2 separate regions of the Homo sapiens genome follow, and region 1 is linked to region 2. The links come from fine-mapping of genetic effects on gene expression. A gene starts in region 2. The other region holds a variant in brackets. All regions are shown on one strand. Distances are from middle to middle. Region 1 has its middle 37 kb from the start of ALS2CL. Region 2 holds the start of ALS2CL (ALS2 C-terminal like).

Region 1 (8,382 bases), 37 kb after region 2:
TTCCTCTGTGTCCTGAGGAGCCAGGTGCTCTCTGCACCCCCAGCTGCTGGAGCCCAGAGGGTGGCAGCCTGGAGCTGGGGCAGCGGTGCCTGGTGCAGTGAGGACTCGGTCTGTGTGGCCTGGTTAGCACAGGACCATGAGGAAGGGGTGAGGACCATCAATAAGAGGCCATCTCCAAGGCCTGCCTTCAGAGGCAAGCTCTTCTCTCCCACACAATTGCTTTGATCCTCGTGGGAAATGTGGTGGACCCTTTTAAGGGGCGGCAGAGAGCACTGGAGGAGAGAGAAAGGGGCCAGCAGGCACATGGGAGATACCTTGACCTCAGGGAACCACTGTTTCAAACCAGAAAGGATCTTTTATACCTTGCTGTCATGCAGCCAAACCAGGCGGACATACGAGCAAGCAGGTGCACCCACGCATCTGTACATGAGCAGTGCGGACAAGTGGCTGCAGGAGGCCCCCGGCCTGTCTCAGGCACTAGCACAGGACTATTCATCACTGGTTCCTGCATTTCTTTCAGGTTTGGCCAAGGCATCCCCAGGGACAAGCACGGATGACAGCAGGTGAGCTGAAATCAACCTGTGCTTACACAGTGAGTCTTGCCAGTGCCTCTGAGGAAAGATGACCTTGGGGAAGTGAGTGGTCATTGGTTTCCTGTGTGCCCGGTCCTTCTGGAGAAAGAGTCTGCAAAACATGCCTAGTCTGTGTGGTCACAGCAGGAAGAGGGCAGAGGTGGGGGCCCTGTCTTAGCAGACAGCACCATGAAACTGGATCTTGAAGAATGAATTTGCCAGAGGGAGGAATGGCTTGCCTGGCAGGGGGGAAGGCAGAGTCAAAGGCCCAGAGGTAGAAGGGCATGACTTTCCAGAATGCAGAGAGCTGGGAAATGAGTTGCAGGGAGGTCAGGCAAACCCCAAGTGAGAAAGACTTTCAAAACCTGCAGGGGCATTTCCCCATATCCCCTAATGTTCAGCCTCTCAGTATTTTTTTTTCTGCCCTGGTGGTGGCTTTCAAACATATCCACCAATTCTTCCACACTCTCCCCATCAAGACACAGAGGCCACGAACCTCACCTTAAACCACAGCCCTTAATGATTACAGCAGGAGAGAGCCGAGTGCCTTCTGAGGCTGCTTATAGAAAGCCACATAGGTCCTGCCAGTTCTCCTGGGATCCTTGTTCTGGGAGCCTTTAACCATCATGCTGGGAGTCTGGCAGCCCTGAGCTGCTGTGTGGGGACGCCTCAGAGAGAGAGACCCAATAGGCCCAGCCTATCCAGCATCCAGTGCCTGGAGTCTTACCAGCCCAGACACTGGGCGCGTGAGTGAGGACACTCGCGTGTGACTGCAGCCTCCATGGACTGGAACCTTAGAGATGCCCCCAGGCAACAGCTGCCTAGCAGCCCAGTCAGCCCCAGATTCCTGAGCAAAATAAACCTCGGCTATTGTTTCAAGCCATTGTTTTGGGATGGCTTTTTAGTGCAGCACTAGGTAAACGGAACAGTCCTTGCCAAACCTACTATTCATCATTTAACTTTTAGAGTTTTTCTATACTTCTACTTAAAAATGGGAATCTGTTAAAATGGGAAACTTCATATCCCTGTGTACGTGGAAATCCAGCATCAATGACCGTAAACGGAAGACAATTCTATAAACACAGAGGAAAAAAATGCATGTGTTTGGTTTCTACACAGATGCTGCTGTCTCTTGGGGCCTGCACCTCGGCAGAGGCTGATTCCAGCTTGCAGTTCTCCGCCACTTGCAGGTGCGGCATTGAAATCATTCCTTGGTATTATCTGTCTTTGTGATTAATGATAGTTTAAGATGGTACACAGCCACAACAAGTAACAGAATTTAATTTCACTAGAAATTTTAAATTGCAGAGGTGAAACAACAGAATGCCCCTTGGTGAAAGAGCAATGTCAAGCAGATGAGTAGTTTTTCCACAGTAAAAGTAACTCAGCAATTAATATTTATTTTTGGTTACAGGCGGGCATGCAGAGCATTTTTTTTTTTTTGAGACAGAGTCTCAGTCACCCAAGCTGGAGTGCAGTGGCGCAATCTCAGCTCACTGCAATCTCTGCCTCCCAGGTTTAAGTGATTCTCCTGCCTCAGCCTCCCATGTAGCTGGGATTACAGGTGTGCGCCATCATGCCCAGCTAATTTTTGTATTTTTGGTAGAGACGGGATTTCACTATGTTGGCCAGCCTGGTCTCAAACCCCTGACCTCAGGTGATCTGCCCGCCTCGGCCTCCCAAAGTGCTGGGGTTACAGGCATGAGCCACCATGCCCGGGCTCAAAGCATTCTTTAAATGAAATGTTTAGTATAGTCAAATACTGATAACCTGCTGGGTGGAGATCAAGGCGCGACTGGACTAAATTCACCAGGTGCTAGTCATTGAGTGTCTGCTGTGAGGCAGATGCCTTGCTAAGGCTGGGCATTAAAAAATGCCCAGTAGGCTGGGTGCAGTGGTTCCCAGCAGTTAGGGAGGCCAAGGTGGGAGGATCACTTGAGCTCAGGAGTTTGAGACTAGCCTCGGCAACATAGTGAGACCTCATCTGTATAAACATTTTAAAAATTAGCTGGGCATGGTGGCATGTGCCTGTAGTCCCAGCTACTCAGGAGGCTGAGGCAGGAGGATTACTTGAGCCCAAGAGGTTGAGGCTGCAGTGAGCCTTGTTTGCACCACTGCACTCTAGCTGGGGCAACATAGTGAGATCCCATCTCCACCAAAAAAAAAAAAAAAAGAGGTCCAGCATTTAGTTCTTAACTCCATTGGTTCAACATGTAAATAATTCTTCTCTGCACTACCTCCTGTCCAGTTCTGCTACCACCCCTTAGTTCAGTTTCTCCTTCCTTCTGTCTTGCAAATGTCATGGGTGATTTCCTGTGGTTAGTGTGGATTCCCTCCACAAATCACAGGGCAACTTTCTAGCATCCCAGTTCTGAGTCAACTGCACAACAGGAAAGGCACCTTCTGGAATTGACTTCTACCCTCCTTTCCAGCCACAATCCTGGCATTTATTGAACCTTGTAATCTATAATTCTGCCATATGAGTCTTCTAAAACAGTGGCCCCCAACCTTTTTGGCACCGGAGACCAGTTTTGTGGAAGACAATTTTTCCACAGACTAGGGGCGGGGTGGGGAGGTGATTTCGGGATGATTCAAGCGCATTACGTTTATTGTGCACTTTATTTCTATTATTATTACATTGTAATATGTAAAGAAATGATTATACAACTCACCAGAATGCAGAGTCAGTAGGAGCCCTGAGCTTGTTTTCCTGCAACTAGAGATGGTCCTATCAAAGGGTGATGGGAGACAGTGACAGATCATCAAGCATTAGGTTATGGTAAGGAACCTGCAACCTAGATCCCTCGCATGCGCAGTTCACAATGGGGTTTGCACTCCTATGAGAATCTAATGCTGCTGATCAGACAGGAGGAGGTGCTCAGGTGGTAATGCCGGTGATGGGGCGTGGCTGTAAATACAGGCGAAGCTTTGCTTACTCACCCACTGCTCACCTTCTGCTCTATGGCCTGGCTCCTAACAGGCCATGGACCAGTACTGCGAAGGGGGTTGGGGACCCCTGTTCCAGAATTTACCCTAATTCTCCATGCCCATTCACTCCTCAATGCCCAGCTGATTTTAATATTGTTCTTCTGATTTTAATGTTGTTCTGTATTGGTCAAGTTTGCAGCAGGAGACAGATGGTCCTCTTGATAGATGGAACCATAGGGCCTCTTTCC[A/G]AAAGTGTGGGCTGTGTTTAGAGAAACTAACAAGGAGAGGAATCACCCTGCGGCTAGCAATAATGGTGAGACACTTAGTATTACTAGCCCTGATGGGGCAACAGAGAAGGACTTTAATGAGAAACAGGTGAGAGAAGGGTTGAAAGAGGGCCCCCTGCAGAGGCTGCTGTATGCGTTGGTGTTGGCACTGGGCGGCCCAGAATAAAACAACCACTCCATATGCTGCACCCAGCTGGGAGCCAGAGGCCCCCAGAATCTGGTTGCAGAGAGAGATGTAAAAGAGTGTAGAGCAGGTCTAAAAGGGTAAATGGGAGCTATCCAGCTTGCCTCTTCAATGGATTTGTTTTTATATTTATTTCAATAGTTTTTGGGGTATAGTTGGGCTTTGGTTACATGGATAAGTTCTTTCGTGGTGATTTCTGAGATTTAGTGCATCCATAAAGCAGTGTATACTGTACCCAGTATATGGTCTTTTATCCTTCACTCTGCTCCCAACTGTCCCCCTCCCAAGTTTCCACAGTCCATTATGACGTTCTTAGGCATTTGCGTCCTCATAATTTAGCTTTCACTTATGAGTGAGAACATATGGTATTTGGTTTTCCATTCCTAAGTTACTTCATTTAGAATAGTGGCCTCCAGCTCCATCCAAGTTGCTGCAAAAGACATTATTTTGTTCCTTTTTATGGCTGAGATGTATTCCATGATGTATATATACCATATTTTCTTGATCCACTTGTTGGTCAATGGGCATTTAGATTGGTTCCATATCTTTGCAATTGTGAATTGTGCTGCTATAAACATGCGTGTGCAAGTGTCTTTTTCATGTAATGACTTCTTTTCCTCTGGGTAGATACCCAGTCGTGGGATTGCTGGATTGAATGGTAGATCTACTTTTAGTTCTTTAAGGAATCTCCACACTGTTTTCTACAGTATGGTTGTACTAATTTACATCCCCACCAGCAATGTGAAAGTGTTCTCTTTTCACTACTTCCACACCATCAATATCTATTGTTTTGTGACTTTTTAATTATGGCCATTCTTGCAGGAGTAAGGTGGTATGTTATTGTAGTTTTAATTTGCATTTCCCTGATGATTAGTGATGTTGAGCATTTTTTTCATGTGTTTGTTGACTGTATATCTTCTTTTGAGAACTGTCTATTCTTCTTCTTTTTTTTTGAGGTGGAGTCTCGCTCTGTTGCCCAAGGCTGGAGTGCAGTGGTGCGATCTCGGCTCACTGCAAGCTCCGCCTTCTGGGTTCACGCCATTCTCCTGCCTCAGCCTCCTGAGTAGCTGGGACTACAGGTGCCCGCCACCATGCCCCGCTAATTTTTTGTATTTTTAGTAGAGACGGGGTTTCACCGTGTTAGCCAGGATGGTCTTGATCTCCTGACCTCGTGATCTGCCCACCTCAGCCTCCTAAAGTGCTGGATTACAGGCGTGAGCCACTGTGCCCGGCCGAGAACTGTCTATTCTTATCCACCGCCCACTTTTTGATGGGATTATTTGTTTTTTTCTTGCTGAGTTGTTTGAGTTCCACAGGTTCATTTCTACTTGCTGAGAAACTCTTAGCACATGCATCATCTCCTTTGGGAATTATTCTCTGACCAGCCGAGGCTGCCACATTTATCTCTTCTGGCTTTTCTCACTTCCTGGATATCCCTGTGGTAGAACTTTCTACTCCATAGCAAAAGGATACCTTTACTTGCCTTCATCATTTTTCATGAAATCTCATTGCTATTCCAATGCTATTGAGCTAGCAGAGAATTTGGAATCACATAGTCTAAGAGTTAAAGCCTCACTCTGCTACTTCAACAACATTTAACATCAGATGCAACATTTAACTTCTGTTTAGAAAAATGTTGATGATGATAATACCTAATTAATTTTTATGGATTAAAAGGCAACTCACTGGCATCTTTCATATTCTTGGCTGCATATCAGCTTTTCATTAGACTTTTAAAAGATAGATTTCTTTTTTTGGTCAGGTGTGGTGGCTCACACCTGTAATCCCAGCATTTTGGGAGGCTGAGGTGGGCAGATCACCTGAGGTCAGGAGTTCAAGACCAGCCTGGCCACTGTGATGAAATCCCGTCTCTGCTAAAAATACAAAAATTAGCTGGGCGCGGTGGCAGGTGCCTGTAATCACAGCTACTCGGGAGGCTGAGGCAGGAGAATTGCTTGAACCCGGGAAGCGGAGGTTGCAGCAAGCCGAGATGCCCCACTGCACTCCAGCCTGGGCAACAGACCAAGCAAGACTCTGTCTCAAAATACACACACACACACACACACACACATAGTTTTTAGAGTAGTTTTAGGTTCACAGCAAAAGTATACAGAAAGTGCAGAGTTCCCACACACCTTTAGCCCCTATCCATGCATAGCCTCCCCATCTATTAACAATCTGCACCAGAATGGTGCTTGTTAAAACCAATGAACCTTCATTAACATGTCATTATTGCCCAAAGTCCAAAATTTACATTAGTATTGTTCATTCTATGGGTTTTGACAAATGTATAATGACATAGATCCGTCATTAATAGAATCATACAGAATAGTTTCACTGCCCTAAAAATCCTCTGTGTGGTACTGGCATGGAGACAGAGATATAGACCAATGAAACACACTGAAAAGCCCAGAAATAAACCCCTTGCCATCTGTATTCTCCTTTGGTGAGGTGTCTTCAGGTCTTTTGCCCATGTTTAAATCAAACTGTTCTTTTACTTATTGTTTTTTAAAGAGTTCTTTGTTTTGCATTACAGTCTTATGTCAGGCATATATTTGGCAGAAATATTTTCTCCCAGTCTATGACTTCTCTTCTCCTTCTCTTGACAGTGCCTTTCACAAAGCAGAAGGTTTTTTGTTGTTGTTGTTGTTGTTGTTGTTGTTGTTGTTGTTGTTTTGAGACGGAGTCTCGCTCTCGCTCTGTTGCCCAGGCTGGAGTGCAATGGCGCAATCTCAGCTCACTGCAATCTCTGTCTCCCGGCTCCAAGCAATTCTCTTACTTCAGCCTCCTGAGTAGCTGGGATTATAGGCGCGCACCACCACACCCAGCTAATTTTTGTATTTTTAGTAGAGACGGGGTTTCATCATATTGGTCAGGCTGGTTTCAAACTCCTGACCTCATGATCCACCTGCCTTGGCCTCCCAAAGTGCTGGGATTAAAGGCGTGAGCCACCGCGCCCGGCTAGAAGTTTTTAAATCTTTTTTTTTTTTTTTTTGATACAGGATTTCATCCAGACTGGAGTGCAGTGGCACAATCACAGCTCACTGCAGCCATGACTTCAGGTGATACTCCCATCCCAGCCTCCTGAGTAGCTGGGACTACAAGTGCATACCACCACACCCGGCTAATTTTTGTATTTTTTGTAGAGACGGGGTTTTGCCATGTTGCCCAGGCTGGTCTCAGACTCCTGGGCTCAAGTGATCCTCCCACCTCAGTCTCCCAAACTGTTGGGATTATAAGCATGAACCACTGCACCAGGCTGAAGTTTTTAATTTTAATGAAGTCCAGCTTATCAATTATTTATTTCATGGATTGTATCTAAAAGGTCATTGCCATACCCAAGGTCATCTAGATTTTCTCTTATGTTGTCTTCTAGGAGTTTCACAGTTTTACATTCAGGTCTATGATCCACTTTGTTTTAATTTTTGCAAAAAGTGTAAGGCGTGTGTCTAGATTCATGTTTTGGCATGTAAATGTCCAGGTGTTTCAGCACCATTTGTTGAAGAGACTATCTTTTTTCCATTGTATTGCCTTTGCTCCTCTGTAAAAAATCAGTTGGCTATATCTATGTGGGCCTATTTCTAAGCTCTCAATTCTGTCCCATTTATCTATTTGTTTCTCCTCTTACCAATACCACACTGCCTTAATTACTGTAGCTTTATAATATGTCTTTTTTTTTTTTTTTTTTTTGAGATGGAGTCTCACTCTGTCACCTAGGCTGGAGTGCAGTGGTGTGATCTTAGCTCACTGCAACCTCCACCTTCCGGGTTCAAGCAATTCTTGTGCCTCAGCCTCCCAAGTTGCTGGGACTGCAGGCACATACCACCACGCCTGTAGTCCCAGGCGTGTATTTTTAGTAGAGACAAGGTTTCACTATGTTGGCCAGGCTCGTCTTGAACTCCTGACTTCAGGTGATCCACCAACCTCGGCTTCCCAAGGTGCTGGGATTACAGGCATGAGCCACTGTGCCAACCTATAGTAAGTCTTAAAGTTGGGTAGTAACAGTGCTCTGACTTTGTTCTCCTTCAATATTGTGTTGGCCGTTCTGGATCTTATGCCTTTAGATATGTAAACTTTAGAATTGGTTTGTCAATATCCACAAAATAACTTGTTAGGATTTTGATTGGGATTATGCTGACTCTATAGTTCAAACTGGGATGAACTGACATCTTGATAATATTGAGTCTTCCTATCCATGAACATAGACTAAGTTATCTCTCCATTTATTTACTTCTTTGATTTCTTTCATTAGGCTTTTGTAGTTTTCCTGGATCTTGTGCATATTTTGTTAGATTTATACCAAAGTATTTCTTTTTTTATTGCTGATGTAAATAGTAATGTGTTTTTAATTTCAAATTCCACTGTTCATTGCTGGTATACAGGAAAGAGATTGGCTTATGTATATTAATCT
Region 2 (8,382 bases):
AAACAAAAGAAACAAAAAACCTTGTTGGATCTCTGTCCTATTGTTGGACATTTCCATTGCTTCCAATTCTCCAGTATTAAACACCACGTTAAGGCGAACATCCTGAAAGTTAAAGTAGTTTTGAAAACTCTCTCAAACTATATCTTTTCCTCTGCTCGTACACCAACACAACAACAATCATCCACACAGAAGTCTTCTGTGATCAAATGTGTGGGTTTTTTCCCTAAATGCCAAGCAGCAGACACCAACTGAGTGCCTTCCAATTCGATTCTGACATGATCTACCCGGAGATAGTGTCAGATCCCACAGATTGAGGCCTCAGTTCCCAAGACTGCCCACCCAGCCCCAAGACACCAGTTGCCAGTCTGGCCTCTGGAACTTCTGACCAACTGGCTTCACGCTGGGGTTCCTACAACCTCCTCTTTGGGCTTAATTTGCTGGAGTGGGTCACAGAACTCAGGGAAGCACTGACTGACTTTTACTGGCTTACTGTAAAGGGTATTACGAAGGATACAGCTGAAGAGATGCATAGGGCGAGATATGGAGGAAGGGGTATGGAGCTTCCATGCCCTCCTGGGCATGCCACCCAGCCTCCACACGTTCAGCTATTCAGAAGCCCTCTGAACCCTGTCCTCTTGGGGTTTATGGAGGCTTCACGACATCTGCATTCCTTCCTCCCAGAGTATAGGGCAGGACCCTCTCTGGGGAGGGTCTTAAGACTCGCAATCAGAAAGGTGTGGGAAAATTAGGGTCCTGACTTGGGGCAGGTGAAAGCAGAGCAGGAGAAGGTCAGAGAGATTCCGTTTCCTGGGGCCTGCCCTGAGGCCCAACACATTATAGCCAAAGACCGTAACAAGGGCAATGGGAGCTATGAGCCAGTAGCCGAGGATGAAAATCAATACCTAACACCACATGGGTTTTTTTTTCCCCCATCTTTGAGGGACTTTACATCTCTGAGGGCTTTTCAGTGAGGAATTTAAGCTCATAGAGGGGTTATGCCCTGCCTAAGGTCACACAGGAACTATGGCCTCCACCTCAGCCTTTGCCTCCAACCCAGGACACTGCTCAGTGTCCAGTACTGTTTCTGCTTCTTAGGAGGCCTCCACATCCCCCTGCACCCCAAAATCAGTTGGGCCCATCATATCTGGGGTTGGGGACCTCTGGACTCCAAGTCCCCCACCCTTGCTCCCTGGAAGACAGTGTCCCCTCCATACATGGTGCTGTGAATGCTGGTCTGCAGATCCCTGCTTCTCCCTCCTGTACTAATTTTAGCTCCTGTGAGTTTCCTGTAGGGACCCAGTCCAGCCTCCAGGGCCTCTGAACTGGAAGCTGTGAGCAAGGCAGGGGGTAGTGGCCAGAGGACCCTGTGGAATGTTCTCTCCTGGAGCCTGAAATCCCAGGGCTTAAAGTTTAGCTCTGGGGGAGCTGGGGGTAGGAAATGAGGACCCCCAGTCACAAAGCTAGGCTAGGATCCAGGGACTCAGCCTAGGGTGGGGGTGGGAGCTGGGCAGCCTAGGCCTGTGCCACAGCAGCTGGGGCCTGCTGGGAGTTGGCTGTCCCTGACCTCATCAGCCCCAGGCTCAGCTCAGAATAGCTGTGGGGCTGGGCCAGGCCTGTGTCAGACCTGCGTGTGCTTGAGCATGTGCTTTGTGTACTAAGGCACTGGTGCACATGGGAGTGCATGTGCATTCTGCATGCAGCTTTGTGTGTGGCTGGGTATGAGTCTCAATGGCTCCAGAATCACAGGTGCCATTCACATACGTGTGTGTTCCCTGGAGTAGTGTGCAGGTCTGTGTCCCTGTGGATGGGCACATGATCTGCACACGCATACCCAGGGCTGCCACTAGAGTTGTGCAACTTGGAGTCCTTACCAGTGGGTTCAATGGTAGATGGGTCCATGTGGCACAGGGACCCACCCATTCCCTGACTGTGGAATTGTATCTGTGTGCAGCGGGTGTGGGAGTGGTGTGGGTGGGTATACACATCTGTGGTGGGATTGGCTAGGGGCCCTTGGCTGTGCTGCAGGGGACTGAAGGCAGGTGGACTCAGCAGAGGCTGTCCTTTGGGCACTACCAGAGGCCTTACCTGGCCCCAAGCCAAGAATGAGCTGTAAGAGAGGCTGGGCAGGTCTTGCCCCATTTAGCAGATAGGAAAACTGGGCTTGCAATGCCCATGAGGTCACCCAGGGAATGGGGGAAGGACTGGTCTGCTGCCCAGAGCTCAGTCAGCCTTTCTATTCCCCTAGATGTGGCTGAACAGGAAGTCTGTGCTCTAGGGAGGAAGCCGTGGGAGCCCTTCCCTTCCTGCTCGAGCCCAGGCAGCACTGCCTTCCCTCAGCTGCACGTGCAGATGATGAAAGTGAGGCCCAGAGACACCTAGCATAAGATCAGATCTGTCCTGCTCGGGGCCTTGCCCCACCTGTCCCTGTTCGTCACAAGTGGTGAGGCCATATGCTCCTCCTGAGGCCATGGCCACTCTCCAGCCCTTGCCTCCCTCCTAAGCCCCAGGGATGCCTGGTGGCCCACACCCATGCTCTAGGGGACCCATAGATCCTCTAAACCGTGCTCATCCCTGAAGGAGCCCCTTGAACCCACCATACCCCTCCTCTCAGAGTCCCACATAACCCCGAGAAGGAGGCGCAGGTAAGATATTTCACCAGCAGGGGCACTACGTTACAGAGAGGCCACACACTGCCTGTGATCACACAGCAAGAGGAAAGCAGCACAAGGCCCCATACCAGCTCTTCCAGAATGTACCGCTACCTCCCACTGCCCCACAGGCACAAAGGATCCCCACAGGGAAGACCTTGGAGGCCTGTTTAGAACCTGAAGCCTCAGTTCATTCCACCTGCTGGGGCGGTGGCTCTGCCAGGCTGTGCTGTAGACTCAGGGAGCCAAGTGCCCCAGCAGACAGTCCCGCAGGCCAACAGGGCTGTGAAGGGGAGTGGGGGCCAAGGTCCGGAGCCTGGGGGTGGAGGGCATGGGGAGGGGAGGCTTTCCCAGAGGGCCAGAGGGACACCTCACCAGAAGCCTCCTTGAGGTAGCCCCCACCCACCAACACAGCAACACCTCTAGCAGGCAGGGACCAGAGGAGCAAGGCCTTTGGGAGTGGAGCCCCTCAGGCAGCAGGGGGTGCAGAAGGGGGCAAGAAAACAAGGCTGGAAAAGGGGAGGCCAGAGCTAGGGCGGGCTTTGGCAATGTGGGGAGGGATGGAGAAGCAGGAAGGGGCGGCTCTGCAGGATTGGGACCCAGGAGGAGAGCAATGTGGGGCAAAAGGGTGAGGTCACTGGGACCTGCAGTCACTCAGACAAGGGTCCCAGGCTGGAAACCCTCCAAGGGGTGATGTGCAGCTTGGCAGACAGTAAACTCCCACCTCGCAACAACCCAAGGGAGCCAGGGGATGAGCTTGGCAGGCCCCAGGCCCCTACTTACCTCCACTGGGGGTCTCTTCAGCCTGGCAGGTTGGGGGATGCCTCCCACCTCCTCAGTAGGGGGCTGAGTAGGGGGCTGGTGGGCCACCCTTTCTGCTCTTCCACGGCCGCCTTGGACCCTGAGCCTCCCCCTCACTGGAACCTGAGTGCCACTGAGAGCAATGGGTGACTAACCTGGTGGCCAGAGGGGGAATCAGGCTGCTGACGGGGGGCTTCTTTGTTACAGGTTTGAACTAAGTTCCCTCCCGCTCCCGGGGGGTCTGTCCCAGATAAGTCTTCAGCCACCCTTTCCAAGGTCTCAGGCCTTCGCACAAAGCACACGCGGCCGGCTTCATGCTCTACTAGGCCTGTTGAGACTCAGGAGTGGGGAGGAAAGGGGACTTCCCCAAGGTCGCACAGGAGGGGCGGCCGGCCGTGGACACCCAGCCCAGGGGGCCGCAGGGCGCCTCAGTATACCCCTCTACAGGCTCCAAGTTCCACGAACCCACACAGCGCTCCGCGTGTGCTGGCTTCTGTGACTCAGGGCAGACCCGGGAGGTCACGGGGCTGCACCACAGGCTCGCAGAGCGACTGACTGGCGGGGCGAGGTGGTGGCACGGCGGCCTCGGAGCCTTGCAGGGGAAGCGGGGCGCGAGAGGCGAGCCTGAGTGTGCGCGTGGGTGCGTAGGGGGCGGAGGGGTCAAGACTCCCACTTTTCCTCCCCGCGCCGGGTCCCAGGGGCCTCCGGATCCCGGGGGACGCCAGAGGGAGGCCTCAGGAGAGGCTTGGGGCGGCGGGACGGATCAATACCGCGCGCCAGCTCCTCGGTGGCCCGCCCGTGGCCCCCGCAACTCCAGAGCAACACCCGGAGGCGGGGCGGGGCGGGGCTGGGCGAAGGGGGCGGGGCTGGCAGGGGGCGGGACTGGCAGGGGGCAGGGTGGGGGTGCGAGCGAGGAGCCGCACAGGCAGTCCCGGCGCGGGGCAACCACAGCGCTCAGGTAAGGGCGCGACGAAGGGCGCGCGTCTGCGGACGGGTGTCTGCGCTCCACGCTTAGCTCGTCCAGGTGGGGGCTCCCGCCTCCTCGGCTGCTGCGGTCCCCGCCCAGCTCCTTGGTCCCGGCGGCAGTCATCCCCCGGCCGTCCGAGTCCCTCGTAAGATACCCCGCTCACAGCGTCGTCCTCCCTGCCTGGCTGCTAGCCTGCTTGGGTTCGGGGCAGCGCCCCGGGCCTGACCTGAGCCGTGGTGGCAGGGCCACGGGGCCCCAGCCAGCAGGAGAGACTGCCAGGAGGAGGTGACGCCGGCTGGTTAGGGCGGAAGGGCCCGACCCGGGATTCCAGGAGGTGGCCTTTTCGCATGGGAGCGGCATGGCAAATGCCTGGCGGCCGGAACAGGAGCTCGGGTCTGGGAAACTCCAGCGACTGAGTGTGTGCCTGGGCAGGGAGAGGAAGGGAAGCTGGGACATATGCGACAGCAGGGAGGGGTGCTTGTCTAGGACAAGAGGCTTGTAGCCATGGTGGGGCCGAGGAAGGGTGCAGCGGGGAGAGGCGAGCATGAGACTGAGGGATCAGGTGTGACAGTTCAGCGCCCCCTCCCTGGGGCAGTGCGTGTCTCTACTCTCCCCCACTGGGCACCAGACAACGAAGGGGCTGCCACGGCAGCCCATGAAAAAGCCTCCACAGCAGGCAGAACTTCCCTGCCTGTTCAGACCAGGAAATACCAGAGTGAGTGAGTGTCACGACAAGGTGTGTCAGGGGCCTAAGGAGCCAGGCCTGGGAGAGGACAGGGAAGGCCCCAGTGACCCTGCCCGGGAGGGACCTAGCGTGGACAGAGGCCAGGAATGCAGAGGAGAGACCAGGTCTGGCTACTGGTTAGAGCGCCACAGGGGCAGCCGCTGACTCACCTGGGCACGCCGTGACTGGCCAGTTCTGTCCTCACCCTGCCCCACCCCACCGCACCCCGTGGTGAGCATCAGGGCTGCCTGAGGACAGCTGTGAGGCAGGGCCCGTCAGGATCTTGCTCTGTGCCTCAGGTGAGTTGCCCACCCTCTCTGAGCCATCTAGCTAGGTGAACCTGGTGGGCTGGAGCCAGAAGTCTGGGTCTGAGCCCTGCACAAGTTCTACACAAGGGTCTCTGGACCCTCCCATTGTTCCTGGGCCTCAGTTTCCCCATCTGTACATTAGGCACAGCCTGTCACTAAGGAACCTTTGAACTGGAGGGAGGGAGAGGGTGAGGAAGCTATGCCCTTGACTGGAAGGGGGAAGGTTAGGGATGGGACAGGGGTTGGGGAGGGGGGTACTCCTGCAGGATCCTCCTCATATTAAGGTTCAGCACCTCCTCCTCCTGCCCTGCAAACGTGCACACTCATGCACATTCACGCTGCCTCACCCCTGCACTTACACTCTCCTCATCACTTCCAGGATGAAGCCCCAGACTCCCTAGCCTGGGAGCTGGGTCCCTCAGGGTCACCTAACCAGAATCCCAGCTTCCACTGCGGCCTTCCCCCAACCCACTGCCTCACCAGCCATGCTTAACTTCTGCCCGTTCCTCTGGGTGGTGTGACTCAGTTTCCCAGGGTTATAGATCCCTTTGGGGCCACAGATGTGGAAGACTCCCAGATTAACAGTTGCCAACTTGAGTCTGGAGGACTCACCCCCGGAGTCATAGGCTGCTTTGTGGGGTGGGGAGTCTAAGGACCAGATCCCCACACCCAGAGAAGCCCCCTTCCACCTGTTTGTCCTTTTGAGGGGAGACTTAAGTAGTTTGAAAAGCTGTGATCCTCTTTGGCTGGGCGCAGTGGCTCACGCCTGTAATCCCAGCACTTTGGGAGGCCAAGATGGGTTGATCACTTGAGGCTAGGAGTTTGAGACCAGCCTCGTCAACATAGTGAGATCCCATCTCTAAAAAAAAAAAAAAAAAAGAATAGAAAGAAATACAAACAAATAAAAAGAAAAAAATGCTGTGATCTGGTTGAACCCCCATTTCGTAGAGGGGTGGCTGAGGTACAGAGAGGAGTAAGGCTGTGGATAAGTTGAAGCATGTCCAGGGCTGAGCAGCCAGGTGAGGGCTGCTCCTGGGGGAGCAGCTGAGACTGGGCAGTGGGGACGAGGGACAGGAAGCCTGAGGAGGAGAGGCTATCTCTAGGGTCAGAGAGCTCCTTGCCAGGGTATGGTGTCGGCTGGGGTCATGGTGCTGGCCCCCCGGAGAGTGTAGGGATGTTGGTGTTCAAGTCTTCCTAGCAGCGAGTTATTTACTGCAGTATCTTTTCAACGTGCACTGATCTGGTTCCTAGTCTGCATCTCCTATCCTAGCCTCACCCTTTCTTCTACCTTCCCAACCAGGCTTGGATATCCTCACCTCTTAGCTTAGACCCCAGCTGACTGCCAGCTGAGAGTGAAAAGGTCACCCCCAAAGCGCCTTTCCATTCCAGCAGTTTCGGGAGATACGGGTGAGAGTTAGGTGGGCCTGGCTGCACCCCTATTCCCTTGGCTGGGCTTTCCTTGTCTGCCTGAGCTGACCTGGAGCCCCCTGTGTCCTGGGGGCCTGGGTCTGCCTCAGGGGCCCACAGAGGGAGAAGAAGCTGCAGCACAGAAGCTGCAGCTGGGTGTCTGGTGGCTTCCCCTTCCTGCCTCTCTCTCTGCAGCCTCACCCTCTCGAAGCAGCAGTAGCAGGAAAGGTGGGGCAGGAATGCCTGGCCTGGGCCTTTGGCCAGAGCTCTGAGGGACCCGCCCCACTCCATTCCAGAGCCAATTCCCTGGGAGTTGTAGGCTCTGCCAGGGGCCTGGGATGCCCGCATGGCACTCTCGGGGCAGGGTGGAGAGGGGAGGGCTGAGACCCCTTCCCACTCACCCTTTTGGGTCTGCCTGTGTCACCTGCCCATCGTTGGCTGCCCTGATTTTGTCCCCTGCCCCACACAGGTTGGCTAACTCCAAAGCCTCAGCGTGTCAGAGACAAGGAGAGAGACAGTCTGCGGGTCTTGGGCTAAAAGACCCTCTAACTCTCCGCCCCAGATACCTGATCAGGTCATTTGGGCAGATGAACATTGCCAAGTGAGGGTACCAGGGTCTGGTAGGGGAGGGCTTTGTTGGAGTAGAGCCTGTAGCCTGGCTGTGGGGGTAGGTTTGAGCCCAGGCCTCTCTTCACCCCTCCCTTTAGGCAGGACACTGCATTCCCAGGTGATTCCTGCCTGATTGGAAGGTCCCTCACTCCAGGGCAGGAAATCTCAAGGCTCAAGCCCACCTGCCCACCCCAAGGGCCCCCACCCATCCAGCAGGCACCCCTTCAGGGTGGATGGTTGTGATCAGTGATCCCTCTGTCTGGTTAGGGGACCATGGAGGGTCCAGGCTCCCATCCACATTGAACTCTCTCTCACTGCCTGGCACTATCTCCTCTACAACTGTCATACATTTATTTCCCCAAATGTGACTTTGGATCCCATCATTACCTTGCTCTAAAGTCCTCCATGGCTGTCCACGGCCGACTGAGGCACAGTGAAGCTGTGGTCCTTTGGGGTGCTGCTTGGTGGGCTGCCCTCAGAGGCTGGGCCCTCACACCCATGAGCCTTTACTCTCAGGGTTCCTCCACTTGCCTGCTGGGTCCTGTCTTCCTTTTCATTTCTTGCCCATCATTCGTGGCTCTAGCAGGAGGCCTCCGGACTCCCCCATACCTCCAAAACTCTCCTTGCTTACACAGCCTGGTTGGGTGACAGGGAGTCCCGAACCATGGGCTAGAGGACAGGGCTGGGATCCTCTGACAGTATGACCCTGTTTATAGAGACTGCAGAATCCCTGAAGGGAGACTTGATGGAAAGGAGGCTAAGACCAGGGCACTACTAATACTATCCTGGGCACTTGGGATCCATGGTGGATATTTGAGCAGAGGAATGAGCAGGCCAAACTGGGCTTAAAGAACATCTACCCTTTGGGGAAGAAAGGGTTGCTTCCCTTGGCAGCTCTGAGCTCTCTCTCTCCTTCAG

What was found.
Region 1: its variant is fine-mapped to the expression of ALS2CL in cerebellar hemisphere (GTEx, PIP above 0.99). The same link has a PIP of 0.9 or more in cerebellum.

The regions. Positions count from the first base shown.
Region 1 is chr3:46,652,415-46,660,796 of GRCh38, reverse strand. No RefSeq gene overlaps it. Among named protein-coding and RNA genes, the nearest start is that of ALS2CL, 37 kb to the left of the region's middle. RefSeq lists an enhancer at 1-2. The variant A/G (reference allele first, on the strand shown) is at 3,749.
Region 2 is chr3:46,689,668-46,698,049 of GRCh38, reverse strand. It overlaps ALS2CL (ALS2 C-terminal like), which reads left to right and starts at 4,371. Exons shown (of 26, transcript NM_147129.5): 1 at 4,371-4,407. It also overlaps a transcript of TMIE not described here. RefSeq lists enhancers at 1,056-1,555, 2,645-3,434, 5,016-5,807 and silencers at 4,067-4,146, 4,297-4,546, 4,277-4,571.